Homo sapiens: one gene and its partners. The protein of the gene in region 6 purifies or fractionates together with the protein of the main gene of each other region. This does not show direct contact. Each region holds a gene or a part of one and is shown on either strand. Other genes may lie near its edges. The genes, in order: RABL6, HCK, CASC3, FARS2, SLC35E1, CHST15 and ILKAP.

Evidence for each region.
Region 1: the proteins of CHST15 (region 6) and RABL6 purify together in Homo sapiens (affinity purification with mass spectrometry; one large-scale study listed by BioGRID and IntAct). This does not show direct contact.
Region 2: the proteins of CHST15 (region 6) and HCK purify together in Homo sapiens (affinity purification with western blotting, with the first as the bait; one study listed by BioGRID). This does not show direct contact.
Region 3: the proteins of CHST15 (region 6) and CASC3 purify together in Homo sapiens (affinity purification with mass spectrometry; one large-scale study listed by BioGRID and IntAct). This does not show direct contact.
Region 4: the proteins of CHST15 (region 6) and FARS2 purify together in Homo sapiens (affinity purification with mass spectrometry; one large-scale study listed by BioGRID and IntAct). This does not show direct contact.
Region 5: the proteins of CHST15 (region 6) and SLC35E1 purify together in Homo sapiens (affinity purification with mass spectrometry; one large-scale study listed by BioGRID and IntAct). This does not show direct contact.
Region 7: the proteins of CHST15 (region 6) and ILKAP purify together in Homo sapiens (affinity purification with mass spectrometry; one large-scale study listed by BioGRID and IntAct). This does not show direct contact.

Annotation. Positions count from the first base shown.
Region 1 is NC_000009.12:136,810,825-136,814,814, reverse strand, and holds part of RABL6 (rab-like protein 6), read right to left. Parts: intron 2,228-3,990; exon of another isoform or gene 1,189-2,227; intron 882-1,188; exon of another isoform or gene 640-881; intron 333-639; exon of another isoform or gene 265-332; intron 46-264; exon of another isoform or gene 1-45. UniProt on the Homo sapiens protein: May enhance cellular proliferation. May reduce growth inhibitory activity of CDKN2A.
Region 2 is NC_000020.11:32,068,997-32,072,986, forward strand, and holds part of HCK (tyrosine-protein kinase HCK), read left to right. Parts: intron 1-691; exon of another isoform or gene 692-755; intron 756-2,665; coding exon 2,666-2,786; intron 2,787-3,990. UniProt on the Homo sapiens protein: Non-receptor tyrosine-protein kinase found in hematopoietic cells that transmits signals from cell surface receptors and plays an important role in the regulation of innate immune responses, including neutrophil, monocyte, macrophage and mast cell functions, phagocytosis, cell survival and proliferation, cell adhesion and migration.
Region 3 is NC_000017.11:40,164,365-40,168,354, reverse strand, and holds part of CASC3 (protein CASC3), read right to left. Parts: intron 1,559-3,990; coding exon 1,494-1,558; intron 985-1,493; coding exon of another isoform or gene 916-984; exon of another isoform or gene 858-915; coding exon 743-857; intron 506-742; coding exon 407-505; intron 153-406; coding exon 1-152. UniProt on the Homo sapiens protein: Required for pre-mRNA splicing as component of the spliceosome. Core component of the splicing-dependent multiprotein exon junction complex (EJC) deposited at splice junctions on mRNAs.
Region 4 is NC_000006.12:5,768,136-5,772,196, forward strand, and holds the end of FARS2 (phenylalanine--tRNA ligase, mitochondrial), read left to right. Parts: intron 1-3,155; coding exon 3,156-3,294; 3' UTR 3,295-3,448; downstream 3,449-4,061. UniProt on the Homo sapiens protein: Is responsible for the charging of tRNA(Phe) with phenylalanine in mitochondrial translation.
Region 5 is NC_000019.10:16,565,489-16,569,478, forward strand, and holds part of SLC35E1 (solute carrier family 35 member E1), read right to left. Parts: intron 2,682-3,990; coding exon 2,544-2,681; intron 1,170-2,543; coding exon 1,044-1,169; intron 1-1,043. UniProt on the Homo sapiens protein: Putative transporter.
Region 6 is NC_000010.11:124,023,811-124,027,800, forward strand, and holds part of CHST15 (carbohydrate sulfotransferase 15), read right to left. Parts: intron 1-3,990. UniProt on the Homo sapiens protein: Sulfotransferase that transfers sulfate from 3'-phosphoadenosine 5'-phosphosulfate (PAPS) to the C-6 hydroxyl group of the GalNAc 4-sulfate residue of chondroitin sulfate A and forms chondroitin sulfate E containing GlcA-GalNAc(4,6-SO(4)) repeating units.
Region 7 is NC_000002.12:238,193,501-238,197,490, forward strand, and holds part of ILKAP (integrin-linked kinase-associated serine/threonine phosphatase 2C), read right to left. Parts: intron 1,371-3,990; coding exon 1,305-1,370; exon of another isoform or gene 1,282-1,304; intron 832-1,281; coding exon 775-831; intron 1-774. UniProt on the Homo sapiens protein: Protein phosphatase that may play a role in regulation of cell cycle progression via dephosphorylation of its substrates whose appropriate phosphorylation states might be crucial for cell proliferation.

The DNA of each region.
Region 1 (3,990 bases), on a different chromosome or scaffold from region 6:
AAGCCAAGAAACACAAAGTGGAGAGTGAGAAGCACAGAACCAACTGTGCCTTTTTTTTTTTTTTAAGACAGGGTCTCACTCTCTCGCCCAGGTTGGACTGCAGTGGCGCAATCTTGGCTCACTGCAACCTTCACCTGCCAGGCTCAAGTGATTCTCCTGCTTCAGCCTCCTGAGTAGCTGGGATTACAGGCGTGTACCACTACCACCCGGCTAATTTTTGTATTTTTAGTAGAGACGGGGTTTCACCATGTTGGCCAGGCTGGAACGTCTTTCAATCTTTGTTGGAAACCTGAACTTTAACAAGTCTGCTCCTGAGTTAAAAACTAGTATCCATGGGCCAGGCCTGGTGGCTCACGCCTGTAATCCCAGCACTTTGGGAGGCTGAGGTGGACAGATCACAAGGTCAGGAGTTTGAGACCAGCCTGGCCAACATAATGAAACCCTGTCTCTACTAAAAATACAAAAATTAGCCGGGCGTAGTGGTGCGTGCCTGTAGTCCCAGCTACTGGGGAGGCTGAGGCAGGAGAATCACTTGAACCCGGGAGGTGGAAGCTGCAGTGAGCACCATTGCACTCCAGCCTGGGTAACAGAGCAAGACCCTGTCTCGAAAAAGAAAGAAAAACAAAAACTAGTATCCATGATATTTTTGCTAAAAATGATCTTGCTGTTGTGGATGTCAGAATGGGTATGACAAGGAAATCTGACTATGTGGATTTTCAAGCTGCTGAAGACCTGGAAAGAGCCTTGGAACTCGCTGGTTTGAAAGACTTTGGCAATGAAATTAAACTAGAGAAACCAAAAGGAAAAGACAGTAAGAAAGAGCAAGATGTGAGAATACTTTTGGCTACAAATCTCCCTTACAAAGTCACTCAGGATGAATTACAAGTGTTTTGGCTGGGCGCAGTGGCGCAGTGGCTCACACCTGTAATCCCAGCACTTTGGGAGGCCAAGGCAGGCAGATCACGAGGTCAGGAGATCAAGACCATCCTGGCTAACACGGTGAAACCCTGTCTCTACTAAAAATACAAAAAATTAGCTGGGTGTGGTGACGGGTGCCTGTAGTCCCAGCTACTCGGGAGGCTGAGGCAGGAAAATGGCGCAAACTTGGGAGGTGGAGCTTGCAGTGAGCTGAGATCACGGCCACTGCACTCCAGCCTGGGCAACAGAGCGAGACTCTGGCTCAAAAAACAAAAAAGTGTTTGAAGATGCTGTGGAGATTGGATTAGTCAGCAAGGATGGGAAGAGTAAAGGGACTGCTTATATTGAGGTTAAGACAGAAGCTAATGCAGAGAAAACTTCTGAAGAAACGCAGGGAACAGAGATGGATGGCCGATCTATTTCCCTGCACTATCATGGAGAGAAAGGTCTAAATCAAGACTAGAGAGACCACTTGGAGGGGTGAATCAAAAACTCTGGTTTAAGCAACCTCTCCTACAGTGCAACAGAAGAAACTCTTCAGAAAGAATCTGAGACAAGGCAACTTTTATCAAAGTGCCCCAGAACCAAAATGGCAAATCTAAAGGGTGTGCATGCACTTACAGTTCGCTTCATTTGAAGATGATAAAGCAGCTTTAAATTCCTGTAATAAAAGGGAAACTGGGGGCAGGGCAATCAGGCTGGAGTTGCAAGGACCACCTGATGCCAGGAGCCAGCCATCTAAAACTGTCTGTCAAAGGCCTGTCTGAGGACACCACTGAAGAGGCTTTAGTCATTCGACAGCTTTGTTGGGCAAGGGTAGTCACCAACCAGGAAACCGGGTGCCCCAAAGGCTTTGGCTCTGTAGATGGCAACAGTGAGGAGGATGCCAAAAGCGCCAAGGAGGCCGCGGAAGATGGTGAAATTGAGGGAAACAAAGGTAACTTGGACTGGGCCAAACCTAAGGGCGAAGGTGGCTTTGGGGTTGTGATGGAGGTAGAGGAAGCTTTGGAGGATGAGGTGGTGGCAGAAGCCAGGAAGGCTTTGGTGGGCGAGGCAGCTTCTGGGGAGGCAGAGGTGACCACAAGCCACAAGGAAAGAAGACAAAGTTTGAACGGCTTCTGTCCCTTTGTCTTTCCCTCTCCCATTTGAAAGAAAGGACGCTGGGGTTTTTATTCCGTTACCTGATCAATGACAGAGCTCTCTGAGGACATTCCAAGACAGTCTACAGTCCTGTGGTCTCCTTGGAAATTCGTATAGACAACATTTCAAGGGTAATACCTTCCTTGTTTGTTTTGACTGGATATTCATATAAACTTTTCTTTCTTTTCTTTTTTTTTTAAGACGAAGTCTCACTCTGTCGCCCAGGCTGGAGCGCAGTGGTGTGATCTTGGCTCACGGCAACCTCTGCCTCCCGGGTTCAAGCGATTCTCCTGCCTCAGCCTCCCGAGTAGCTGGGATTACAGGCATACGCCACCACACCTGGCTAATTTTCATATTTTCAGTAGAGATGAGTTTCATCATGTTGGCCAGGTTGGTCTTGAACTCCTGACCTCATGTAATCCGCCCACCTCAGCCTCCCAAAGTGCTGGGATTACAGGTGTGAGCCACCGTGCCCGGCCTGCTAAGTCCCATTTCTAAATTCGCACCAGTGTCTACTCAGAGAGGACTCTGGTTGTCCGAGCTCCTGGGCCAGGCCAGTATCAGAGCTGCACAATAATGCTCACTCAGGAGCAACTCCACAGAAAAATTCTGCACCAAATACAACTGATATTTTGTGTCCAGTCACAGTAGAAAGGGACAGACCAACTCAGGCAACAATCTTTCTTCCAAATAATTTCAAATAATTTTCCTAATAATTTTATATGCAAATAATTTCAAAATTGTGTAAACCAAAATTAAAATCCCAAGGCCTGCCAACCATCTGAATGGACTTCCTCTTCTAGGCCAGGGCCATCCAAATTTCATCTGAAAGACTGGTTCAGGCCATTATGGGAAGAGGGGAGTCAGACAGGCCTCATTGTGGCCTCCTCCCTTCTGGAATTCAGGAAAAGCTCACCAGCATTTAACATCAACACTGACTTTAAGTCTGATAAGAAACATAATCTGGCCAGGCGCGGTGGCTCACGCCTGTAATCCCAGCACTTTGGGAGGCCAAGGGGTTCGGACTGCTTGAGTAGAGGGGTCTGAGCCCAGCTGGGCAACGTGGTGAAACCCTGTCTCTCTAAAAAATACCAAAATTAGCTGGGTGTGGTGGTGCAATTGTTTTTTTTTTTTTTTTTGAGACAGGGTCTGACTCTGTCACCCAGGCTGGAGTGCAGTGGCACAATCTCAGCTCACTGTAACTTCTGCCACTTGGGCTCAAGCGATTCTCCCGCCTCAGCCTCCTGAGTAGCTGGGATTACAGGCACCCACCATCACACCCGGTTAATTTTTATAGTTTTAGTAGAGACGGGGTTTCGACATGTTGGCCAGGCTGGTCTTGAACTCCTGGCCTCAGGTTGTCCGCCTGCCTCGGCCTCTCAATGTGCTGAGATTACAGGCGTGAGCCACCGCGCCCGGCAAAAAAACACAATTTTTTTAAACTACCTCCGACCTGGAAGCCCCCACTTCAAGTTGTCCCGCCTTTGTGGACCAAATCAACATATATCTTAAATGTATTTGATTACTGTCTCATGTCTAAAATGTATAAAACCAAGCTGTGCCCTCCACCTTGGGCACATGTCCTCAGGGTCACCTGAGGGCTATGTCACGAGCCATGGTCACTCATATTCAGCTCAAAAATAAATCTCTTCAAATATTTGACAGAGTTTGACTTTTTCATCCATTATGGTCCAATGTCTCATTCGAGTTTTTATTCTAAAACCAGTGGGTGTCCCACACGTCTACCGGGACCACTAGCAACTCCGAGCAAATGCAGGGCCCAGGAGGAGAGCCCAGACTCCTGGAAACCCGCAGCAGTTCCCAGAAACTCTCACCCCCAAAACCCTCGACTCTGTCTTGATCACATTGCTGGTCTGTTACGCTCTGTAAAATATTTGAGAAAATAAATACCAGAAAGCCGGGCATGGTGGC
Region 2 (3,990 bases), on a different chromosome or scaffold from region 6:
TTTTAAAAAAAGCGAACTTCTCCAGTGTTGCAGTATCTCTAGGCTTGTGGGCCAGAGGAATTGCAAACTGTGCTTGCTTCATGATCCGGGGCAGTGTCACGTCTGCCAGTAAACAGAAATAGTTGTGGTTAATGTTTCTGCAGCGCTTACTGCATGCTGGGCACTTTTACACTCATCAACTTGCTCAGTGCTCACCACCACCCTATGAGGTAGAACCCTTGCCACCCTTTCTCAGAGATGGCCTTGGATTGTGAATGAACACAGGTCTTCTGAGACCCCTCCCTCGGGACCCTGTGGCCATCTTGAATATGTACATTGATCACGTAAGTGAAGCATACAAGGTGCTCAACGCGCATGGATTGGAAATCACAAGACTCACAGCTGCAGATCAGTGGGTGCCCAGAGAGGTAGAGTGAGCTGCCCTACCTCACACAGTGCTGCTCTTCCCAGAACATCTTTATGCTGACCAAAACACACGAAATGTGATATAATTTTATGTCATATATGTCACACAAGATGCCCGTTTAATTTCCCAGAACTGTAATACACATTTATCTCAAAGAGAGATGCTGGTTTCAGTTTTAAATGCATGCAAGTACATTATAAATCTGTGCTTAATTATGATAATTTTTCAAATTAATGATCCAGCACTCCAAGAGTCTGAATGTGTTCCTTATTTTATTTCCAAAAGACAAACAAAGCAAAACCGCTCAAGTCTTGAGGTGGCAAATCTTTCCCAGTTCCCACCAGAAGAGGTAAATCCTTGTAAATAAAAGGAATCTTTTTTCATTTTTAAAAGTAACTCATCTAAGCCTAGGAGTTTGGGGTTTTTTTCCTTAAACCACAAATACATGTTTATTTTAACAAGATAAGTATAACTGAGTTCTAACTGCTTTAGAAGAAAATGGCAATTGTGCAGAGATGAGAAAAGCAAGCACTTCCTTATGTGGTTGTCACAGCCTGCCTTCTCAGCAAATGTGTGTGCACATTTTGAGAAAAGAAATGAAACATTTCTTCCACTTTTACAATTATGTTTTGACTCTACTTGGAGTAAATGTGTTTTGTTTAAGCATCCTTAAATTAATTCAATACAGCAGCAAAGTCTGCAAGCTCTACCTCCAAAATGTCCCCCAAACCTGTCCAATGCTTACCTCCTCTCTGCCCCCACACTACCCTGGGCCACCATCATCTCATACCTGAACAATTTTGGCAGATTTCTCACAGGGTTCCCTCCCCTGCTCCCCACTGTCCACGCCTCACTCAGCCACCGGTGGGATTATTTAAAGTGCAAATTGAATCCCATCATTCTCCTGCCAGAAACTTTCCATCATCCTTAGAATAAAATCCAAAGTCCTTACTGGCCCTACAGGATATGGTGGCCTTGTCACAACCACCCTCTTCCCTGCCCATGAGCTTCAGCTACACTCTCCTGCTTTCAGTGCCTCCAACTTCTCTCTAAGCACATGCCAGCCTCAGGGCCTTTGCATTTGCTGTTCCCTCTGCCTGGAACACTCTTCCCTCAGAGTGTCCCCTCACTGGCTCCTTTGTGTCATTTAGACCGCAGGTTCTGTATCCCTTTCTCTGACAGGCCTTCCCCAAATGCCCTGCCTAAAAGAGCCAGACCTGTTGTTCCCCACAGCATCCTCTCTTATTGTCCTCACACTTTTCATTAACTCAATTTGCCCTGTTATTTATTTGTTGGCCTGTTTATTGTCTCTGTCTCCCATTCGGCTGCAGTTGAGGTCCTGAGGGCGTGAACTTGCTTCTCTTCTTCACAGTTTAGAAAAGTGCCCAGTAAATCTTGGCTGTGTAAATGGATGAATGAATTACCAAACAACTCAGAGAGAGACAGAGAGAAAGAGAGGAGGAAGAGGAAGAGGAAGAAGACGAAGAAAGAGGAGGAGGAGGGAGGACAGAGGAGGGGGAAGGAGGAGGAGGGGAAGGAGGAGGAGGGGGAAGGAAGAGGAGGGGGAGCAGGAAGGAAGGGAGGGAGGGAGGGAGGGAAGGAGTTATAAGCAATTTATAAATTGATACCAGTAATACGGTGCCTTGACAAACTAGATTGTTTGAGCCATGTTATGTGACCTCATCTTGTTATTTAATATAAAAATGGCAATTTATCATCTGATAATACTGCAGTTTTTCTGTAGTGTTTGCTCTGAGCCTGACACTGCACTGAGTATTTCCCCACTGTAGGTCATATTATTGTCCCCATTTTGCCGATGAAGACCTGAGAGGTGGGTAGGGGCAGGAAAGTGGTCAGTGAGGTGCTGGTGGGGTGGAGGGGCCAAGGATCAGCTGAGGCTTTCTGACCTGAGAGCTGGCAGTGCCCACCCAACAGCTCTACCTGTTACATTTCTGTTATCCTCATGCCATCCTCTGAATAAACATCCATCACGCTGGTCCTTGGTACCCACGACAATGACAGCTTGTCAGCCCTGGGCCAGTGCTGTGGCACGTGGACATGGGGAAGCCCAGAGGTGGCAAGGATGGAGTGGGTTCCATGTGGGGAGGATAAGGGTGCATGGAGCTGGCAGGGGAGTTAAGACCGGGAAGGCCAGTGGGAGCCAGCCCGGGGGCAGGGGACCTGGAATGCCAGCATCAGAAGACTTCCCCGCATGAGGCTCTTGGTAACTGGGGCTCACCTCCCTTCTGTCTGCTGCAGGATGGGGTGCATGAAGTCCAAGTTCCTCCAGGTCGGAGGCAATACATTCTCAAAAACTGAAACCAGCGCCAGCCCACACTGTCCTGTGTACGTGCCGGATCCCACATCCACCATCAAGCCGGTGAGTAGGGGAGGTCCCAGTTTCCCTGGGGGCTGACGGATGCTGCCCCAACATTGCCCTAACAGCCTCCTGTCTTCCCAAGGTTGGGCAGGGTGAGCTTGGGGTGAAAGGGAGCTGACTGGCCACCAACAGTGTCCTGACTCGACTCTCCGGGACGCAGCGCCAGCCAGCATGCATAGGGGCAAAGAAGTCATCTCTCTTTCCTGCAGCCCAGGCTTGGCCCCTCAGCCTGAGCTCCACCAAACAGGTGTGAGTGAGCATCTCAGGCCTCCGGCCTGGGCAGAAGCAAAAGCAGTGCTGAGAAACGAGTGAACAGTAATGATAGCAGCTGAAGTGACAATGTAATGGTAGTATCAGCAGCATTGCAAAAATACAGTAACAATTGTCATACTAATAGTACCAACCATAATTGCGTGAGTATAAGACCAAGAGTAGCAGCAGGAACAACAGCAAGAGTTGTAAAAAGAGAAGCAGTCATGCTAGGAGAGGTATTTACCAACTTCTTTTATGTTTATACAAAGCTGACTATGAACCCAGCACTGTTGTAAGCCTTTACGGTTATTAACACCCTAATCCTCACAATAATCCTATTGTGTGACACACAAATACATTCTTCTTGAAAATAAAAACACAGGCCAGGTGCAGTGGCTCACACTTGTACTCCCAGCATTTTGGGAGGCTGAGGCAGGAGGATTACTTGAGCCCAGGAGTTCGAACTGCATGAGCTATGATCACGCCACTGCACTCCAGCCTGGGCAATACAGGGAGACCCTGTCTCTTTAAAAAAAAAAAAAAAAAAAAAAAAAAAGAGCTGCTTAGAATGCCATAGTTTAGGTGTCACTTCCCCCTTGCATGGACACTTAGATTGTTTCACATACATAACAGAGCCTTTATTTATGGAATATAAATCACTGGTGGGCCTGTGATTTCTCCAAACTTAGTCGGAAAACACTGATCTGGACCGACCCCTTCACTGTGTGTTGAGGGGAGGGGTCAAGCAGCATCCCCCGGTACATCCAAGACCGAAGGCCGAGGTCACAGCTCAAGAAACCTGGATCCTGGCTGGGCACAGTGGCTCACTCCTGTAATCCCAGCACTTTGGGAGGTCAGGAGTTCTAGACCAGCCGGGCCAACATGGTGAAACCCCATCTCTACTAAAAATACAAAATTAGCCAGGCATGGTGGCATGCGCCTGTAATCCCAG
Region 3 (3,990 bases), on a different chromosome or scaffold from region 6:
ACTGGGATTACCAAAGTTCATGACGCCTGGAGCAGAAAAGTAAGTAGGAGCAAGCAACTGCTGAGGTGGTGGCTGTCCTGGAGACATGGACACTGGTGGGGGATAGAGGCCTGGATTGGGCAGAGGAGCTGGTGTCTGGTGGGGATGTAAACCTGGATAAGGAGAAGAAAAAAACTGAAAAATAAAGTAACATCATTTTCACAGGATGGCCCGGCTGGACTGCTCAGTATAATCAGGCTCAGAATGGAAGTCCTCAGGATGGACACAAGAGGAACTTGTTGCCCAAGCAGCCAGGATGGCCAGACTCCCAGGCTAGCAGCACAAAGCTCAGGAGGATGGGTTTTGTGGCACTCCCAACATATATCCTCAGGTACTGGAAGCATATAAGCAGAGACACAAAGCTTACCTGGGTGGGGAAGGTTCATTCCTGGCTGCACAAGCATGCCCTGTGGAGGCAGCGGGGCAGGGCTGTCACCATGGGTATAGATTGGTCCCTGGAACTGCACTGTAAGATATCACATTGGGACTCTCATAAACCCTTACTCTTCACATGGACAAGTCTCCTTGTTCCCCAAGCCCTTTAAAAGATGTTCTCAATATTCCATGCGAAGAAAACAGCAACCAGACAATGTTTGATAACCACTATAAGAGGTCAGAAGAGAAATTCAGGAGCCAGGAGCCTGGTATCTTACTTCACTTCACCCTGCCAAGAAAAGTACCCCAACAGTAAGAAAAAACTCACGTGGATCATAGTAATGTCCCTCCATGATACTGATATGCACTGGAGGGGCGGGGGGCTCTGGCACAGGTCTTTGCCGCTGGGATGAATAGCGTTTGGCTCGACCACCCTGGACACCCTGAGACAAAGAAAGAGGCCTAAACAATAAGAATTCTAGAGGGCTCTCATATCAAGTCCTACCTTCCTTTAGGTGTTGAAAAACACTTGGTACATGGCAGGTATTTAATGGATATTTGCAAAGTGAGCTGAAAAATAATGAAAAGATATCAAGATTTGAACCTAAACCTTCTACCTTACATTTAGGAGATCCAAATTAAAAGAAACATGCATAATCAATGGAAAAACTGACTTTATCTTGGCCGGGCGTGGTGGCTCATGCCTGTAATCCCAATACTTTGGGAGGCCAGGGTGGGTGGATCATGAGGTCAGGAGTCAGGACCAGCCTGGCCAACATGGTGAAACCCTGTCTTTACTAAAAATACAAAAATTAGCTGGGCATGATGGCACGTGCCTGTAATGCCAGCTACTCGGGAGGCTGAGGCAGAATTGCTTGAACTGGGACCCAGGAGGCAGAGCTTGCAGTGAGCCGTGATCCCGTCACTGCACTCTAGCCTGGGCAACAGAGCGAGACTCTGTCTCAAAAAAAAAGAAAGAAAGAAAAGAAAAAAAAAAAAGACCTTATCTTGGTTTAAACAATGAACAAGCTGTGTAACAGGCAGCTCCCTCCCCCATCTACCCCTTTCCCCTTCTGTACCATTTCTTCCATCCGGTTAAACTGAGGTGGAGGTCCTGCTCCCATGTGTATATGGTTGGGCATACCTGTAATACACCAAAAAAGTCACTTCTGCAGATCAGACATACGTGAGTGGGACTCAAAGATACTATCAAGAGACAGGTTTAAGTGTCAACATAAGGAATGCCTTTTTTCTTTTAACTAATAAAATTCTCTATAAACTATCTCTGCTTTCTGTCAACACCAGCATTTAGAAATTTGTCCCCACTGTCTGCCATCTTAATATAGCAATAAAGCCCTTGAAAATGAAAAATAAAATGACTTCAGTGAAGAAAATCAAATTCAAATTTTTTCCTATCAAATTGTTCCCTGCATAGAATCCCTGAGAGATTATAATTAGCACATTACATTATCCAACATATTGAAAAATCTCAGCCCAAGAGTTTCTGAGCAACAGCTGGACAAGGGAGGGATGCTTTGTAAATCTACTTGATTATATCCATTCACAGGGGTCTGGGTTGGAAGTTTGAAAGGAGATTCTCCTCTGGCTAAAATGACTCAAGACAAAAAGGAATGTTCTAGAGATTGTCCTCCAATAGTAAGAAGGGTGCTGCAACTCCAATTGAGGAGTTCCAATATTTAAGTTAGATTTCAGACTAAGGGAAGATCCTTTGATCTATCTGGCTGGAGAAAAACAAACCACAATAGGCAAAATGGGTAATAGGTAGGTCTTACTCTCTAAAACTATGCTGCCCAATATGATATCCACTAACCAAATGTGGACACTTAAGTTTCAATTAATTAAAAGTTCAATTCCGGCTGGATGCAGTGGCTCATGCTTATAAGCCCAGCACTCTGGGTGGCAGAGGTAAGACTGCTTGAGCCCAGGAGTTCAAGACCAGCCTGGAAAACACAGTGAGACCCCCCGTCTTTTCAAAAAATAAAAAAAATCAGCCAGGTGTAATGATGTGTGCTTATGATCTTAGCTACTGAGGAGGCTGAGATGGGAGGATTGCTTGAGCCCTGGAGGCGGAGGTTGCAGTGAGCCAAGGTCACGCTACTGCACTCCAGACTCTAGCCTGGGTGACAAAGTGGGACCCATCTAAAAAAAAAAAAAAACAAAAAAAAAAACTATATCTATGTAAACACAACAACAACAAAAACACAAAAGTACAATCATTACACAAAGTTCTATTGGGCAATCTGTCTCTAGAAGATTAAGGAAATAAGGGAGGCTTGCCTTTCAAATATATTAGAGAAGATCTTGATCAAAATTCAACTGAATAAATTTCTGCCTTCAAATATTTAACCATTAGTTCAAATAATAACGTTGTCTTCTTCTACTTTTTGTGGAAAATGATCCTGTACTCAGGAGGCTCAATGATGACCGGGCAGGTGCAGTGTCTTCCATCTGTAATCCCAGCGCTTTAGGAGGATCTCTTGAGCCCAGGAGTTCAAGATTAGCCTGGGCAATATAGCAAGACCCATCACTACAAAAAATTTTTTAAAAATTAGCTGGGGCTGGCACAGTGGCTCACGCCTGTAATCCCAGCACTCTGGGAGGCCAAGATGGGTCGATCACTTAAGGTCAGGAGTTCGAGACCAGCCTGGCCAACATAATGAAACCCCATCTCTATGAAAAATACAAAAATTAGGTGTGGGCCAGGCACGGTGGCTCATGCCTGTAATCCCAGCACTCTGGGAGGCCAAGGTGGGCGGATCACGAGGTCAGGAGATCGAGACCATCCTGGCTAACACGGTGAAACCGTCTCTACTAAAAATACAAAAAAAAAAACTAGCCAGTCGCGGTGGTGGGCGCCTGTAGTCCCAGCTATTCAGGAGGCTGAGGCAGGAGAATGGCGTGAACCCAGGAGGCAGAGCTTGCAGTGAGCCGAGATCACACCACTGCACTCCAGCCTGGGCAACAGTGAGACTCTGTCTCAAAAAAAAAAAAAAAAAATTAGCCAGGTGTGGTGGTGAGAGCCTGTAATCCCAGCTACTCAGGAGGCTGAGGCAGGAGAATTGTTTGAGCCCTGGACGCAGAGGTTGTAGTGAGCCAAGATCGTGCCACTGCACTCCAGCCTGGGCAACAGAGCAAGTCTCTGTCACAAAAAAAAAAAAAAAAAAAAAAAGGCCAGGCACGGTGGCTGTGGCTCACACCTGTAATCCCGGCACTTTGGGAAGCCAAGGTGGGAGGATCACAAGGTCAAGAGATCAAGACCATCCTGGCCAACATGGTGAAACCCGGTCTCTACTAAAAATACAAAAATTAGCCCAGCGTGGTAGTGCACGCCTATACTCCCAGCTACTCGGGAGGCTGAGGCAGGAGAATCACTTGAACCCGGAGGTGGACATTACAGTGAGCCGAGATCGTGCCACTGCATCTAGCTTAGGCAACAGAGCAAGACTCCATCTCAAAACAAATAAATAAATAAAAATACAAAAAAAAAAATTAGCTGGGCGTGGTGGTGTGCGCCTGTAACCCCAGCTACTCAGGAGGCTGAGGCAGGAGAATCAC
Region 4 (4,061 bases), on a different chromosome or scaffold from region 6:
CACAGAAGTTTCTAGAAAATGAAGCCTTCTCTGTCATCATTCATGTTAGGAAAAGGCAAACCTGGTTGACTTTCACTTGATTCTATTGAATTCAACAGAATCACCAAACAAACATTCTGCTAAATAGTATTTCTCTCATATCTATATATTATGAGTATTTATCTCATAATCCATGTATTTATGAATCATTTACACCTAATTCATCAAAATGCTCTGTATAAGTTGTTTGAATCCCAAGAATCCTTATAGAGGCCTTTTTCTGAGCACATAGAAATAGGAAAACAGATTTTTCCCCATCCATCTTCAATTGGCAATAACTTTTAGAGGTGCCATATTACCAGCTCTTCTGCTAGGAGGGACCAGAGTGAAACAGTGAAAAAACACAATGTGATAATAATTGCCACAATGATACTTTCACCTCACACCCAATTAGCACTTTATAATTTGCAGAGTCCTGTCAATTTCTAAACAGGCCCTGATTTCTCCATATCTTCTCCAATACTTGTTATTTTCCTTTTGTTTTTAAAATGAGCATCCTAATGGGCCTGAAGTGGTATCTCATGGTGGTTTTGATTTGCATTTCCCTGATGGCTGAAGTTGAACATTTTTTCATGTGCTTGTTGGCCATTTGTTTATCTTTGCAGAAATGTCTATTCAGATCTTTGGTACATTTGTTTTACTATGTTGTTGGCTATTTTATCGTTGAGTTGTAAGAGTTCTTTGTATATTCTAGATACAAATCCCTTATCAGGTATATGACTTGCAAATATCTTCTCCCATTCTGTGTGTTCCTTTTTGACTTTCTTGATTGTATGCCTTGAATTAAAAAAAATGCCTAATTTTGATGAATTCCAAGTTTATCATTTTTTTTAATTTTTTCACCTGTGCTTTTGGTGTCATCTAAGGAGGTTTTGCCTATGCGGTCATGAATATTTACTCATCTGTTTTCTTCTAAGAGTGATAATAGTTTCAGCTCTTATATTGAGATATATGATATATTTTGAGTTAGTTTGTGTGTGTGTGGTGTGAGGTAGGGATTCAGCTTCATTCTTTTGCATGTGGATATCCAGTTGTCTCAGTATCAATTGTTGAAAAGACATTTCCCCCTTGGATAGTCTTGGTGCTCTTGTCAAAAACCAAATAACTGTAAATGGAGCAATTGTAGTTTGAATGGAATGGGTCAGCACTTGGTGGCAGCAGGGGTCTTGGCTATGTAGTTTCATAAGCTCCCACTCCTGGAGAGCCTCTGTTTTCCTCTCAAAGCCAGGTTTTTCTGTCTCGCTGCGTTTTGGTGCCTGAAAGGCTTGGGTGGGCATGGTACCTGGAGTACTGTTGTTCGGAGCACAAAGTGAGGAGAAAAGACCACTCTACTTTGTGGGAGGTCCTTGGGGCAGTTTGGGCAGCAGTGCCTCCCCCAGGAGTCAGGGTCCCCACCCCAGAGGAATGTCCACAGAGCAGAGCCATTGGCCTGAGCTGGACTGAAAAAGAAAGAGCCAGGTGGGGAGAGGATTTGATTTCTCCCTTGGTCTAAAGCAGGCAGCTGACATTGGGTGAGGGAATGGGGCAGGCCTCCATGTGCTATCGGGAATCCCCAGGAGGTCCCTACAGAAAACTTCCACCCCCAGCCCAGCTTGTTTATCACAGCCCTTCAGTGGTAACTTCCTCCTGTGGCTTGATCCAAACGGGGGCTGCATATGTGGCCAAAATGCACATAACCCTGTGAGGCACAGCATAGCAGCTTATCTTCCCTGAAAGTGGAAGGACAAAAGCAGGACAAAGATGACCAAGCCAGGGTGGGAGAGAGGGGAGGAGACACTGGAAGGGGAGGTGAAGGGGCAGACTAGGGAGGCCAGGACCAAGGCAGACTCTCATGCACCAGGCATATTCTGCCCAGCCAAGGGCTCTGGCATTCAGATGAGGGAGAGGGAGAGGAAAGAGGAGAGAATCCAGTGAGACCAATCCATGAAGTGTCGGGAGGACCCTGGAAGCAAAGGCTCTGGACTCAGGTGGCATCAATGGGACTACCAGTTTCCAGTGAATATGTGGGAGTGGCCTAGGTCCAGCTCAATCAGAAGCCCATTTGTTCAAGGCCCTGGTATTACTGAAGGCCCAGCCCTGTCTCACCTGCCAGAAAGCACGTGGCCTCTCCCTGGCTAGGCTAAGGGCTGGTTGACGGCATCATAAAAGGAATCTGCCTGGGAGCCCTCAATTTGTTTCAGTTTCCTCCCCCAAGGCCAAGAAGGGATTGGGTTGCCTCTGTTGTTGTTGCTGCTGCTGCTGCTGCTGCTGCTGCTGGGGGTTGGAAAAGAGGAATTTGTGTGACCAGATCCCCTTATTGTATAGAAGAAGAGAAATGTGAGCATTCAGAGATGGTGAGATGTCAGACACCCAGCCACACAGCCAGTGAGAGACATGTTGGGGACAGGGCCAGGCCTGCCAGTTCATGGCCCAGGGGTCTTTCTCATGAGATCAACTGACCAGTGTGTCTTAGCACCTGCCATGCAAATAGAAGGCCCTACTGCTGTCATCTCCACGTATTCCAGAATTACTCAGCTGTTCTATGCAAGCCAAGTCAACACCAATGTCATAAAGGAGAGACTAAAGTAATTCTCTACACAGCACATACACGGCATATATGGCCTGTATGCTTCCTGGACAGCCAACAGGGGTGCCGAGGGAGTGAGTCCCTCAGCCTTGCCTGGAGCCTTGCTGATACTTCAGTTTGCCTCACAAACACGGTTACCTTCCATGACATGAAGGAGGCACACGCGGGTTGACCCCTGACCCTGTCTGCTTGTTAGAATCACGTCGGGAACCGGGGACAGGCTTAGAAGCCCAGGTCCCACCTCCCACCTGCTGAATCCAAATCTCCAGAGCGTGGCCTGGGAAATCAAATTTGTCAGCTTCCTTCCCAGGGGACTTTGATACATCCACCCCAGTGGAAACCAGCAGCCTCCTTTAGTCAAGCGAATGTTTCCCTGACTGTCACCTTCTCCCCCTGTATAAGATGCAGATTGTTAGCGGTAAATGGTACCTGGATTCCAACCTCAGTTCTCCACTGCAGTTGGGGAGATCTGGCCAGGGCAAGCCACACTGCTCCTTCAGGCACAGCCTTGTTCATCCCGCACTCACCTGTGTTCTCTTCCTCTCTGTAGGACGCACAAGACCAGCCACTGCTACCGCATCACGTACCGCCACATGGAACGGACTCTGTCCCAGAGAGAGGTCAGGCACATCCACCAGGCCTTGCAGGAGGCTGCAGTCCAGCTGTTGGGTGTGGAGGGCAGGTTCTGATGTCACCACTTCACTCAGGCTGCAGCCCTCTTGGGGCTCCAGGATTTGCTGAAAGAGAAAAAGATATGGTTTGTGAACTGGGGCATCAATCATCTTTTGATAAATGGATCAGTTTTAGGACTTTCAGAAAATAAAAGATCGCTCTTGAAAAGCTGTTGACATAGCATTTGTCTTTTATTTGGGGAAAGGAGGAAGGTCTTTTCCTATTCCTTTTAGAAGTGCTTTGCCCACTGGCATTGGTGCTTAGTATGGTTAATTGGTCCCTGGGTTCCATTAAGCACCAGGCATGATTTCTTGCCTGACAGGCTCTTCCACTCAGGTAATGAGTGAAGCCACACAGAGGGACATCAGAAATTCCAGATACAATACAGGAAGCTTTTTGAATCAGCTTCCATTCCTTCCTCCCTTCTCTTCTTTTTCAGTTTTGCAAAGGGCAGGCTTCAAAGAGGGCACTAATGAAATGCCAGGGCTCTCGTCCAATGTGAAGGGAGGTGCGTCTTTCAGCCAGGGCAGGATATCTATTTGCTTTTCATAAACCCATGGCTTGGAGTCAGGCCTCTGGCCCCAGGACTTGGGCTTAGCTGCCTTCTGCCCCACTGGAGAGGAAGGAAAGGGGCGAGAGCTGCCCCAGAGTCTTGGAGGCACACAGAGGGGCCAGGTCCTCAAACTCCCTTCAAGTTTTCCCAGCAGGCAGCCTCCACTTCCAGAAGGCGACCTTTAGGGAAGAATATGGGGCTTTGATGTTCCCCCCTTTCCATCCCAGGCAC
Region 5 (3,990 bases), on a different chromosome or scaffold from region 6:
CGTAAGCCACCACACCCAGGCAGCGCATGTTTTTTTCTTTTTTTTTTGACACGGAGTCTCCCTCTGTCACCCAGGCTGGAGTGCAGTGGCACCATCTCGGCTCACTGCAACCGCCACATCCTGGGTTCAAGCAATTCTTCTGCCTCAGCCTCCCAAGTAGCTGGGACTACAGGTGCGAGCCACCATGCCTGGCTAATTTTTGTATTTTTGGGAGAAACAGGGTGTCACCATATTGGCCAGGCTGGTCTCAAACTCCTGACCTCGTGATCCGCCCGCCTTGGCCTCCCAGAGTGCTGGGATTACAGGCGTGAGCCACTGCGCCCGGCTTTTTTTTTTTTTTTTTTTTTTTTTGGCCAGTGCATAGTTTTCAAAGTTCCAGGGCTGGCAAGGCACAGTGGCTCACATCTGTAATCCCAGCACTTTGGGAGGCCAAGGCAGATCTCTTAACGCCAGGAGTTCAGGACCAGCCTGGGCAACATAGTGAGACCCTGTCTCTCCAAAAACAGTAAAAAAACAAAAATCAAACAAAAAAAAATTAGCCAGGCATGGTGGTATTCGCCTGCAGTCCCAGTTACTCGGGAGGCTGTGGGAGGATCGCTTGAGCCCCGGATTGAGGTCAAGGCTGCAGTGAGCCATGATTGTGCCACTGCACTCCAGCCCTGGCAACAGAGCGAGGTTCTGTCTCTAAAAAATAAACATTTAAAATAAAAAATGAGTAAAAATAAAAAGTCAATGTGCTATCTGGACTATACTGTCAGGAGGTGAAAGAGTCACCTTCTCTTCCTTGACGCTACTGGCGCACACACAGCAGCTATCAGCACCTGGGATCAAGCACACCAGAGAAGGAAATACACAGGAAACCCACTTCCTCGATGGCGTGCATCGTCACCGTGAGGCATTACAGAGGACTGACTGCTGAAAGCGCTGGCTGTCAGGTGCCCAAAAGATACCACAATGTTAACATGCAGCTACAGCTCCTCAACAAAGCACCTATTCTGGAACTAGCCAAGAAAATGGCGTGTTCTTGGTGCTGTACAACTCACCAAGTCGCTGCTGACCAGGAAAGCCGAGAGGTCCACCAGAACCCAGGTGGGGATCATAAAGAAGACGGCGTGGCAGCCCAGGATGTTGAGCAGCCGGAGATGGTGGATCCGTGAATCTCGCAAGACCTGGAAAGGGAAAGCCTCTTTAGAGGGTGATTAAAACTATATGTGGCAAAAAGGGCTCCAGTGACTCAGGCCCCAAACACAGTGACTGGACATTAACCCTGACATCTGAGCTTGGACACCAAACCTGCAAGTGCATTTGTGAGGACATACACAGCACAGGCCTGAAACAAGCACCATGCTCCACGCATAAACGACTGAGAAAAGAAAACAAAAATAAAACAGTAACACTCAGTGCTGGTGAGGATGAAGTGAAGTAGGCACTCTGAAATTCCACTGGTTTGAGGCTGAATTGGTATAACCTTTCTAAAATACGACCAGACAAACCATATTAAGAGTGATTAACGTTTCATACCCTCTAACCTGAGAACTGTAAGCCTATCATAATGAAATAACTGAGACAGGAAAACATCACACACGTGATTGTTTCTACATTACAATGAAAAGTTGGAAATAAGTGGTATTTCCAATAGAGAGACTGCATTAACTGTGGTACCTGAAAAGTGTGTGATTATCACAGGAGTTAAGAGCAATTTTTTTTTTTGAGACGGGGTCTCACTCTATTCCTATTGCCTAGGCTGGTCTCGAACTCCTAGCCTCAAGTGATCCTCCTGCCTTGGCCTCCCAAAGTGCTGGGATTATAGATGTGAGCCACTGCACTAGGCTTCAACAAGTTTTAAAATCTTGTTTTAAATTGAAGTTTTTAGCTAGGCCTGGTGGCTAATGCCTGTAATCCCAGTGCTTTATGAGGCTGAGGTGTGAGGATCACTTGAGCTTCGAAGACTGAGGCTGCAGTAAGCTATGATTGTGCCACTGCACTCCAGCCTGGGCGACAGTGAGCCTTGGTCTCAATAAAAGAGCTTTTCTTTATTTTTTTCTTATTGAGCACATTAACTTTATAATAGAAAAACTTTTTTTTGTTTTTGAGATGGAGACTCACTCTTGCCCAGGTTGGAGTGCAGTGATGCAAAATCTCAGCTCACTGCAAGCCCCGCTTCCTGGGTTCAAGCAATTCTTGTGCCTCAGTGTCTGGAGTAGCTGGGATTACAGATGCGTGCCTGGCTAATTTTTATGTTTTTAGTAGAGATGGGGTTTTGCCATATTGGTCAGGCTGGTGTTGAACTCCTGGCCTCAAGTGAACCGCCCGCCTTGGCCTCCCAAAGTGCTGGGATTATAGGCATGAGCCACTGCGCCCGGCCAGAAAAACAAACTATTTAAAAAGCAAAATGACAAACAGAAAATCAGCAGAATGGCAATCAAGATTTTTCTGCTCTAATAGCAAAGAAATTTCTACTCCGCCTGTTTTCCCAATGCCACCAGTTTGCTGCCCGCACACCCCTGAAACCCCATGCATGTCCGCTGATGGTGACCAAATACCTTTTTGGAGAAAATGTTCTGAAGCGAGAAGCACAGCGTGGCGGCGAGGGCGCTGACGAGTCCCCACATGTCAAAAGACAACTCGGTGACGGTGGCCAGCAGGACACCGCTGATGATGGGGATGAGTGACAAGTATACCTGCAGGAAGAGGTCATCAAGAAGGGCTCACAGGCCAGACTAGAGCTGGGCCACATGCCACAGATGCCCAGGGAAGAGCCCCTCTCCTCCCTCAGCAAAGGGATACCACCTAACACTTTGAAAGTGGTGTTTGCTGTGCCAGTGACGCTCTGGTGGGTGGCTGGGGGCAGGTGGTTATCAGAGCGCCAGGGGCAGGGCTTATTTGTGGGTAGCCCCATCCCCATACCGTCACCCCCATTAAGAGCCTCTGCTCAGGGCCACAGCCCGGGGCTGGTCCTAACTCCACAGATCTGTTCAGCTGCCACTGACGCACCAGGGTTTGAAGCCCTGATCCTCTATAAGGCTCCCCCATTCCCTCTTTTTAAAAAATAGTTTTTTTGAGACAAAGTCTCGCTCTGTCGCCCAGGCTGGAGTGTAGTGGCACAATCGTGGCTCACTGCAACCTCTGCTTCCCGGGTTCAAGCGATTCTCCTGCCTCAGACTCCCCAGTAGCTGGGATTACAGGGATGTGCCACCACGCCCGGCCAATTTTTTTGTACTTTTAGTAGAGACAGGATTTCGCCATGTTAGCCAGGCTAGTCTTGAACGCCTGATCCACGTCATCCATCCACCTTGGCCTCCCAAAGTACTGGGATTACAGGTGTGAGCCACTGTGCCCAGCCCCCATTCCCTCTTACTTCAGGCTCTTCCAGTATGGTTACTCCTGGCTGGCACACTCCACTGATGCCTTCTCCTCCCAGTGACCTCCTGCCTCCACAAGGAGTGCTTTCTCCAACCCACCTCCACCTTGGGAGGCTCCTGTGCTGTGCTCCCAGGGCCACTGCCTGGACTTCCCCAGCAGAGAGCTCTCCACTCACTCTTTTTTTTTTTTTTTGAGACGGAGTCTCGCTCTGTCACCAGGATGGAATGCAGTGGCATGATCTCGGCTCACTGCAACCTCTGCCTCCCAGGTTCAACCGATTCTTCTGCCTCAGCTTTCTGAGTAGCTGGGACTACAGGTGCCTACCACCACGCCCAACTAATTTTTGTATTTTTAGTAAAGATGGGGTTTTGCCATGTTGGCCAGGATGGTCTCGATCTCTTGACCTCGTGATCTGCCCACCTTGGCCTCCCAAAGTGCTGGGATTACAAGCGTGGGCCACCGTGCCCAGCCTCTCCACCCACTCTGTCTGTTACATCATCCGGTCCCGTTAGTGTACCTTAGAGCAGGTCCTTGTTCACTGCTTTATCCTGGTGCCTAGCACTCAGTAGGCACTCAATAGCTGCTAGCTGAATGAACGAGTAGCAAACATAGTGACAGAGAGCCTTC
Region 6 (3,990 bases):
GCATCCAGGTATCTGACATCCATATTTCCGTCTTCGTTTTTTTTTTTTTTGAAGCGGAGTTTCGCTTTTGTTGCCCAGGTTGGAGTGGAATGGCGCAATCTCGGCTCACTGCAACCTCCGCCTCCCGGGTTCAAGCAATTCTCCTGCTTCAGCCTCCTGAGTAGCTGGAATTATAGGCGCCTGCCATCACACCCAGCTGATTTTTTGTATTTTTAGTAGGGACAGGGTTTCACTGTGTTGGCCAGGCTGGTCTCGAACTCCAGACCTCAGGTGATCCACCCACCTCAGCCTCCCAAAGTGCTGGGATTACGGGCGTGAGCCACCACGCCCAGCCGCCATCCATACTTCCAAACGCTCCCAGACCTTCAGCCACATACTACCCTGCAAAAACTGTGCTCCCTTATAGCAGGGTCTGTTGCAAATGCGCCTTCTCCACTGCCCTCCCCTCTAATTGAGGTCATGATATGAGGAGCAGCATTTCTTAGGGACAGGCCCAGAAGCTATCCACCTCCGTAGCCCACCTTGGCACATCGGGTGCCTCTGACACAGCCCTCTAGAATTCATCCACGGCCAATGTCCACAGAGGACACCTCTTGGAAGTCTTGAGCAGTTTGAGATCTACCCACAGAGTTCCTAGAATCAAAACACCCACCGGAACAGGAGTGTTCCATCTACCACAGCCTGGCCAGCCAAACTGTCCAAAGAGACAGTCAGCAAAGGGGCTCGGTGGCCACTGAGTAGATTTCCCCAGATCCACACTCGCCTGAGAATATTCCCCAAGACAACACCACATCAGCTTATTACTGGTGTCCCCAACATCACCTGTGCTATTTTCCTTCTTCAGAATTAGAAGACACATCAAAACTGAAACACGGCATCTGTCGCCATAGGGTCGCTCATGGTTACTATGACCTAAATGGCTGGTCAATAAGTGCCAAAATCAGACACGCGTGAACCTTCAAGCAAGGTTTGGCTGTGTGCACTGAGGGGTGCCAGGTGGCAATTGGTCTGAGGGGTACCCTTCCTGGCTCACACATTTCCTATGAGTCCTGTCAATAATATGGCTCAGCCCAAGAAACTACGTCAATGAAAAGTAACAGATGCTTCTGAAACTGTCATAAAATCCCACGTTAAATAAGTATTCGAAGCCCAGTTTTTACCAAAGATGCCCACAGAACTACCCAAATTGTTTGGTGGAACTGGAATTCCATCACATAAATTACCTCACACAAACCCAAACACTGGCTGAAGGTTTCCATACTGAGAATTTTCTTTGTGGTAATAACATTTCTTGCAGATATTTGGCTCATAAATAAAACAAAAGCACCTAAGCTTGTCTTGATTTTAAATACAAAGTCACTTCATGAGGAATCTGCTGATTCCATACAATTCTTCAGAGATCAAGAAGTAATCCCTAGGAAAAACTGGGACATACCTACTGTTCCAACCAGGCAAGCCCACCCCTAGCAGGTGAAACGGCTGATTTTCATCTGTTTGAGGTGGGTTAAAGTGAACTCACTACCTCACTTCCTGTGAGTCACATGTACAGCCTTTGAGAGCCAGGCCACGCTCCTTCCTCGGCTGGATGAAAAGAGACTCCTTTGGCCTCTCAGTCACCTCTGGGTACTTTGGATCTGCTCAGAGAACTGGCAGTGGGCTTTGGGAGCCCCTCGAACCCCACTGCGAGAAACTATGCTGGGTCCCTGGCATCCTGCTGTGTCACAGACATCTGAACAGGGACTAGATTCACCACAAGCCATGGCCACCATCTGGATTCCGTAGTTGGATGGATAGTGGACACCAAAGAATTATGTCCAAGTCTGAAGCCCAGCCCCTGTGAATGTGACCTTTCTTGGAAATAGGGTCTTTGCAGATGTCATTAAGTGTAGGATCTTAAGACGAGATCCTCCTGGATTTACGGTGGTCCCAAATCCAATGGCAGGTGTCCTTATAAAAAGAGGAGAGGACAGACAGCACCACAGAAAGACGGAGACAGAGCCTGGAGTGCGGCGTCTATGAGCCAAGGAACGCCAAGGACTGCTGGAGGCCACCAAGAGCTGGGAGCAGGGGACGGCTTTTATCCCTTAGGGCCACCAGAGGGAACCAACCCTGCAGACATCTTGATTTAGGACTTCTGGCCTCCAGAATCATAAGAGACTACATTTCTGTTGTTTTAAGAAGCCAAGTTTGTGGTGATTTATTATGACTGCCCTAGGAAACCAGACAGATTTTAAACCCCAATTCTAAGGAAGACCAATTACTCCAAGGAGTTATTTTTGCCAATACTTCTCTGCCACCCTGAGACCCTGGAACAGTGGCCCTGAGGGTAGGGGAGGACTGGGGTCATGTGGCCACATTTCCCAGAAGGAAGCATGAAGGAAGGCAAATGCGGACAGGAGCACTTCCCTTCAGGGGAGCACTCAGACAGGGGAGCACTGAGACGGGGGAGCACTCTTTGGGTTCTCCCCAAGAATTAAGCGAATGCTTCCTAAGATTGTCTTCAAGTAACAAAGCTATCATTTCCCCCTTGACTACTCTCCAGGGGAAAAGAGTGAGTTAATAATCTTGGGTGGGGGAAAGCCACTCGGATAGGTTAAAGCCACTCAGAAAATGCTGAGAACAGCAAACATATCAAGAACAAGTATCCACTGGACGTCAAAAGGCCAGACAGGCACACTGTGGAACAAGATGAAACGTACAGAAACAAACTGAAATGTCTACCTTTTAGTCTTCAAAATCCACTATCCCATGAGGAAGTGGGGGAAGGAGACCAATGTAATGGAAAACACACAGCTCACGATCAATCATCACAGAACTGCAGGGGCACGGATGCAACCCCAGGATGCATTAACAGGGGCACGGCATGAGGAATGTGGGAGGGTGGAGCCAGGCGACAGGCAGCTCACGGCCTCAGCGGATGCTTGCTTTCAGTGCTGGGCACCAAACCTGGCTGCTCTCCCTGGAGATGCAAAAACTCAGCAGGAAGGAGCCCAGTCCCGAACTCCTGAAGGACTGACCAGCGGGCAGAAGGTTCGGGAAGAAAGCCTGGTTGCAGGCAAGGGGAAATACCTCCAGTCAGGGCAGGCTAACACGAGGGGATGGTCCTAGAAGGCAGGAGCAGCCTAGGCTGGAGGGAAGGAGGGCTCCAGGATAGCGTGGGGGCCAGGGGACATCATACCCTCCCAGCCCTGAGTTTCAGGGCTGCCCAGCCCCCTCCAGCTGAGCCACCTCATTTTCTTACTCTCAAACCATCCCGAACAGATGGGTATTACATTTGGCCAGGACTGTTTCCAACGACAATTCCAAATATAAGTCCAAATGCATTCCAGGCCTTCTGTGCTGCGGTTATTTTAGAAGGCTGTCGGCGCGGCCCCTCACACTGGGCCCGTGCTCATGGGGTACTGCTCAGCCCCTTTCCTGTGCAGTGCAGGGGTCCTGGGACCCCTGGAGGAGCGGTGGGATGGGAAATGTATGTTAGGGGGCATAGGGCTCCATCAATCCAGTGCCTCTGAAAGTGACCATGTCTCTCCCCAAGGGACAAAGGAGAGGCCAGCAGTGGCAAGGCCCTACTATGTAAAATCTGGATGATTACAGCCAAGACCACTGCTGGATTCATTCAGGGACACTTACAGCCAAGACCACTGCTGGATTCATTCAGGGACACTTACAGCGTGCTGTTCTGAGCCAGCGAGCAGAGGTTGGTGAGTTGATCACTATTAAAGCAGGAGCTGCTGCTGCTCCTCCCGCCAGGGCTCTGTGTGATTGCTTTCCGGGTTTAGTACCTGCAATGTTCTCAGTTTCCACTCCTGATGTGGATGCTGGGGGGTAGGGAGGGCCACCACCACCATGCCCTGTACAGGGTGCTGCATGCATGCTCTGCGTCTATCTTCACAACCCCATAATGAGATGTGGGCCACCCCATTTTACTGGGGGAGAAGGCTGACACTAGAGAGGTTAAGGAGTTTGCCCATGGTCACGCAGCCCAGGAAG
Region 7 (3,990 bases), on a different chromosome or scaffold from region 6:
GTGAGCCACCACGCCCAGCCAGAACATATTAACTTTCATTACAACTAAGGGTACTATCTTTATTGGGAAGGTTTCAGGCCACACTGTGAGTGTGAGGATGCTGCAATTTTTTGGTATGGGTCTACAGCCCTGAAGATTGAGAATTCTTATATAAGATGACTGGAGTACTTTTCCTAAAATATAGAAAATATACCTGCATACGAAATGGGATTACCTGCATTCCCCACTGCCCCCACACCATCTATCTCCCAACCTCTCCTAACCCTCACCTTCCCCAACCAGAGGAGCTCTACCTAAGAAGTTCTCATGAGACAGAATCATACCTTTGCCGCAATGGCAACAGGAATCTGCTCTATTCTTCCCTTCTACTTAATTAGGACATGAAAAGGAACATTTTCAGGAGGAGGTAGAGCCAATGCTACTAGCCTCGATACATTTGAGTCAAGCACTCTGTTTAACAAGGCAAATCGGAATAATGAACTCTGAATTTTTAAAAAATGTTAATAACAAAGTTAAGAGTAAATTAGTGAACTCTTAATTCTTAAAGGCAGTTCCAACAATCTGAACCTCAAGAAGTTAATATCACCAGAAAGTGATACAGTATTATCTTTGTGCTTCCAATTAATGTGCCTGTTTATAGTTTTAGTAAACCTTATGCTGTATTATGACTTAATGTCATCCAAAATCCCGTTAAAACCTATACATAAATTTCACATAAGAGTAAAATACTATGTATTATTTCCATCAGCACCTTGGATTTTTCCTACCACTTACCTGAATCGCCACTGCTAGCGGGTGGGAGATCATCAAAAAGCAAAGGTCCCCCTGATCCTGAAACACAGCAGAACACTTAGTGAGCCCACAAAAAATATGTAAGACTTAAGTTTCAGAATCCATCCCACCAGGACACCTATGTAGGTTACTGAAATAAACTCAAAACTTTGCGTCAATCCAGTGGCAACTCATACTGCAATGAATAATATCTTGAACCTATTTTAAAGTCCTATTATTTCAAAGGAAATAAAAATCTGCCTTAAAAAGTTAAATTGTACTTCAGGTAGTAAAATAAATACTCAAATGAACCAGAGAAAACTGCTCCACATTTCCTCGCAGTACTTCTCAGGGCTAGCGACTAGCAGATTTTTCTGCCTTACCTGATGCCATGGATTCAAAACTTAAAGACAGTCCAACACCTAAAACATCTGTGTGTTGAAAATGGGGGAAAGGGAAAAAGATTGAGACAACTACAATCCCAGGATGAGTAGAGACGTTGACACACACCTGGGAGAGCCTGAAGACTGTACCTGAGTCAGTACTGCTGGCCGGAGGGAGGTCATCAAAGAGCAGGGGTCCTTTCTGAGCTTCTTTCCCTAAAACACAGAAAACCTGTTTAGAGAGCATATGGTCATCACCCAGGACAGATTTTCAAAGAGGAAGATCATGTGGTCTCCCCTGCTTTGACACAAGTTTGCTATTAGATTCTAATTTTCTCCTTCCTGTTGGGCAAATTTTTAAAACATATTTTCTTAACAGCTTTTTTAATATGGACATCTGTTTCCAACAGTTACAGTCAACATAAAAGCAATGATTGATGCCCTAACAGGCATCTTCAGGGCCACTGAATATTTTGAGGAAAACAAGTATTTTCTTGATAATTTCATTATTGAAAGCATGAAACATTTAAAAGTCTTTCTTTAAAATAGAATCCTGGGAAGAAAAAAACTGATTCTAGACCAGGAAAACAATACTTGAGACTTCCTGATAGACGTTCAGAAATTTGGGGTGGGGTGGAGGAGGGGCCTTCAAAGACCTACAGGTTTATAAAAATCCTATTTCGGTAACATTCTGCAAGGGAAGAAAATCTGTTGGAACCTGGTGTCCCTAGCCCCAGCACAGTGTCTGATTCAATAAATAGCTATGGAGAAAATAAAGGAGTTTCAGGTAACCAAAGACAGATAGCCTCAGGAGAAAGTCACGAAACTCTTTTAACAAAAAATGTGAAGATTTACACTCCAAAAGTATGTCTTAAATGTTTTATGCCCAATTATCTTTTTCCACATAAAATTTAACGACCATTCCTTATTTTCCAGCTTTTTCCTGAAATTCTGTTTAAGCTATTAGATATCTGAACTGGCACACAAGAATCCAAGTTGAAAGTATACACGTTCACCTCCTGCAAAGTTCAACACACCAACCAAACACACCAGCTCTATCCCACCTCTTGCTCCTCAGAGTTCAAGTATAAAAACGTGCTCATTTACGCCAGGCGCAGTGGCTCATGCCTATAAACCCAGCACTTCGGTAGGCTGAGGTGGGAGGATTGCTTGAGTCCCGGAGTTCGAGACCAGCCTGGACAACATGGCAAAAAAATGTCTATGAAAAAAATACAAAAATTAGCCAGGTGTGGTGGCAGGCGCCTGTAGTCCAAGCTACTCAGTAGGCTGAGGTGGGAGGATCACCTGAGCCCAGGGAGGCCAAGGCTTCAGTGAGCCATGATTGGGCCACTGCACTCCAGCCTAGGCAACACAGTGAGACTCTGTCACAAAAAAAAAAAAAAAAAAAGTACTCACTTAAAAACCAATTCACTTTTTTTTTTTTTTTTTTTTTTTTTGAGACTGAGTCTCACTCTGTTGCCCAGGCTGGAGTGCAGTAATGTGATCTTCGCTCACTGCCTCCACCTCCCGGGTTCAAGCTATTCTCCTGCCCCAGCCTCCTGAGTAGGTGAGATCACAGGCGCACACCACCATGCCCAAATAATTTTTGTATTTTTAGTAGAGACATGGTCTCACCATATTGACCAGGCTAGTCTTGAACTCCTGACCTCAAGTGTTCTGCCTGCCTCAGCCTCCCAAAGCGCTGGGATTACAGGGGTGAGCCACCATGTCTGGTCTAATTTTTGTATTTTTAGTAGAGACGGGGTTTCACCATGTTGGCCAGGTTGGTCTCAAACTCCTGGCCTCAAGTGGTCCACCCGCCTCAGCCTCCCAAAGTGCTGGGATTACAGGTATGAGCTATTGTGCCAGGCCAAACACCAATTCAACTAAACAAATAAATTTATATCCCCCAAGAGGGTCATCCCTATCATCTTTTTGCCTCCATTTAGAAATGAGCTGGGTATCAACTTTCTTCTTTTAAAAACAAAAGCTTTAATTAAAAATTTATAAACTTAAGGGAATGAAATTTCTCCCGGGGTCTTTGCGTCAGAAGTACCTAAAATACACAAGAAATTCCTGAGTTAACAAAAAATAACTATTTTGCTTTATATCCCTAATACAAATGGGAAAATGTATTCTAATCCTTCAGGATGACCCTAAACAAATTAAGGAATTGCAAATACTTTCACTTTTCTTACAAGTGACATAAAGACTCTATTAGAAGTATACAAGAAGCAGAAGAAAGCCATTAAAAAGTATTTAGTATGGCCAGGTGTGGTGGCTCACACCTATAATCCCAGCACTTTGGGAGGTCAAGGTCAGGACTGAGGTCAGCAGTTCAAGATGAGCCTGACCAACATGGTGAAACCCTGTCTCTCCAGAAATACAAAAATTAGCTAGGCATGGTGGCGGGTGCCTGTAGCCCCAGCTACTTGGGAGGCTGAAGCAGGAAAACTGCTTGAACCTGGGAGGCGGAGGTTGCGGTGAGCTGAGATAGCGCCACTGCACTCCAGCCTGGGGGACAAAACCAGACTCTGTCCCCAGCACCCAAAAAAAGTATTTAGGATAACCATTACTCAATGTATTAATCCACTTACAAGAATTCCTAATATCCCGAAGTAGGTCACTTTTGCCCAAACATTGGGTCTAACAATCACAACGCCCGTTCTCCGGACAGACTCAAAAACCACATGAGATGTTCCAGACAATCACGCTGCATTCAGTGGTGTCACAGAGCCAGATGTCTTAGGACAAGGGAGGGGACATTTACAGGTAACAGCCCAACATGAAGAGCAAACAACCCTTCCGCTTGTACCAGGTCATATTTTAACTTTTG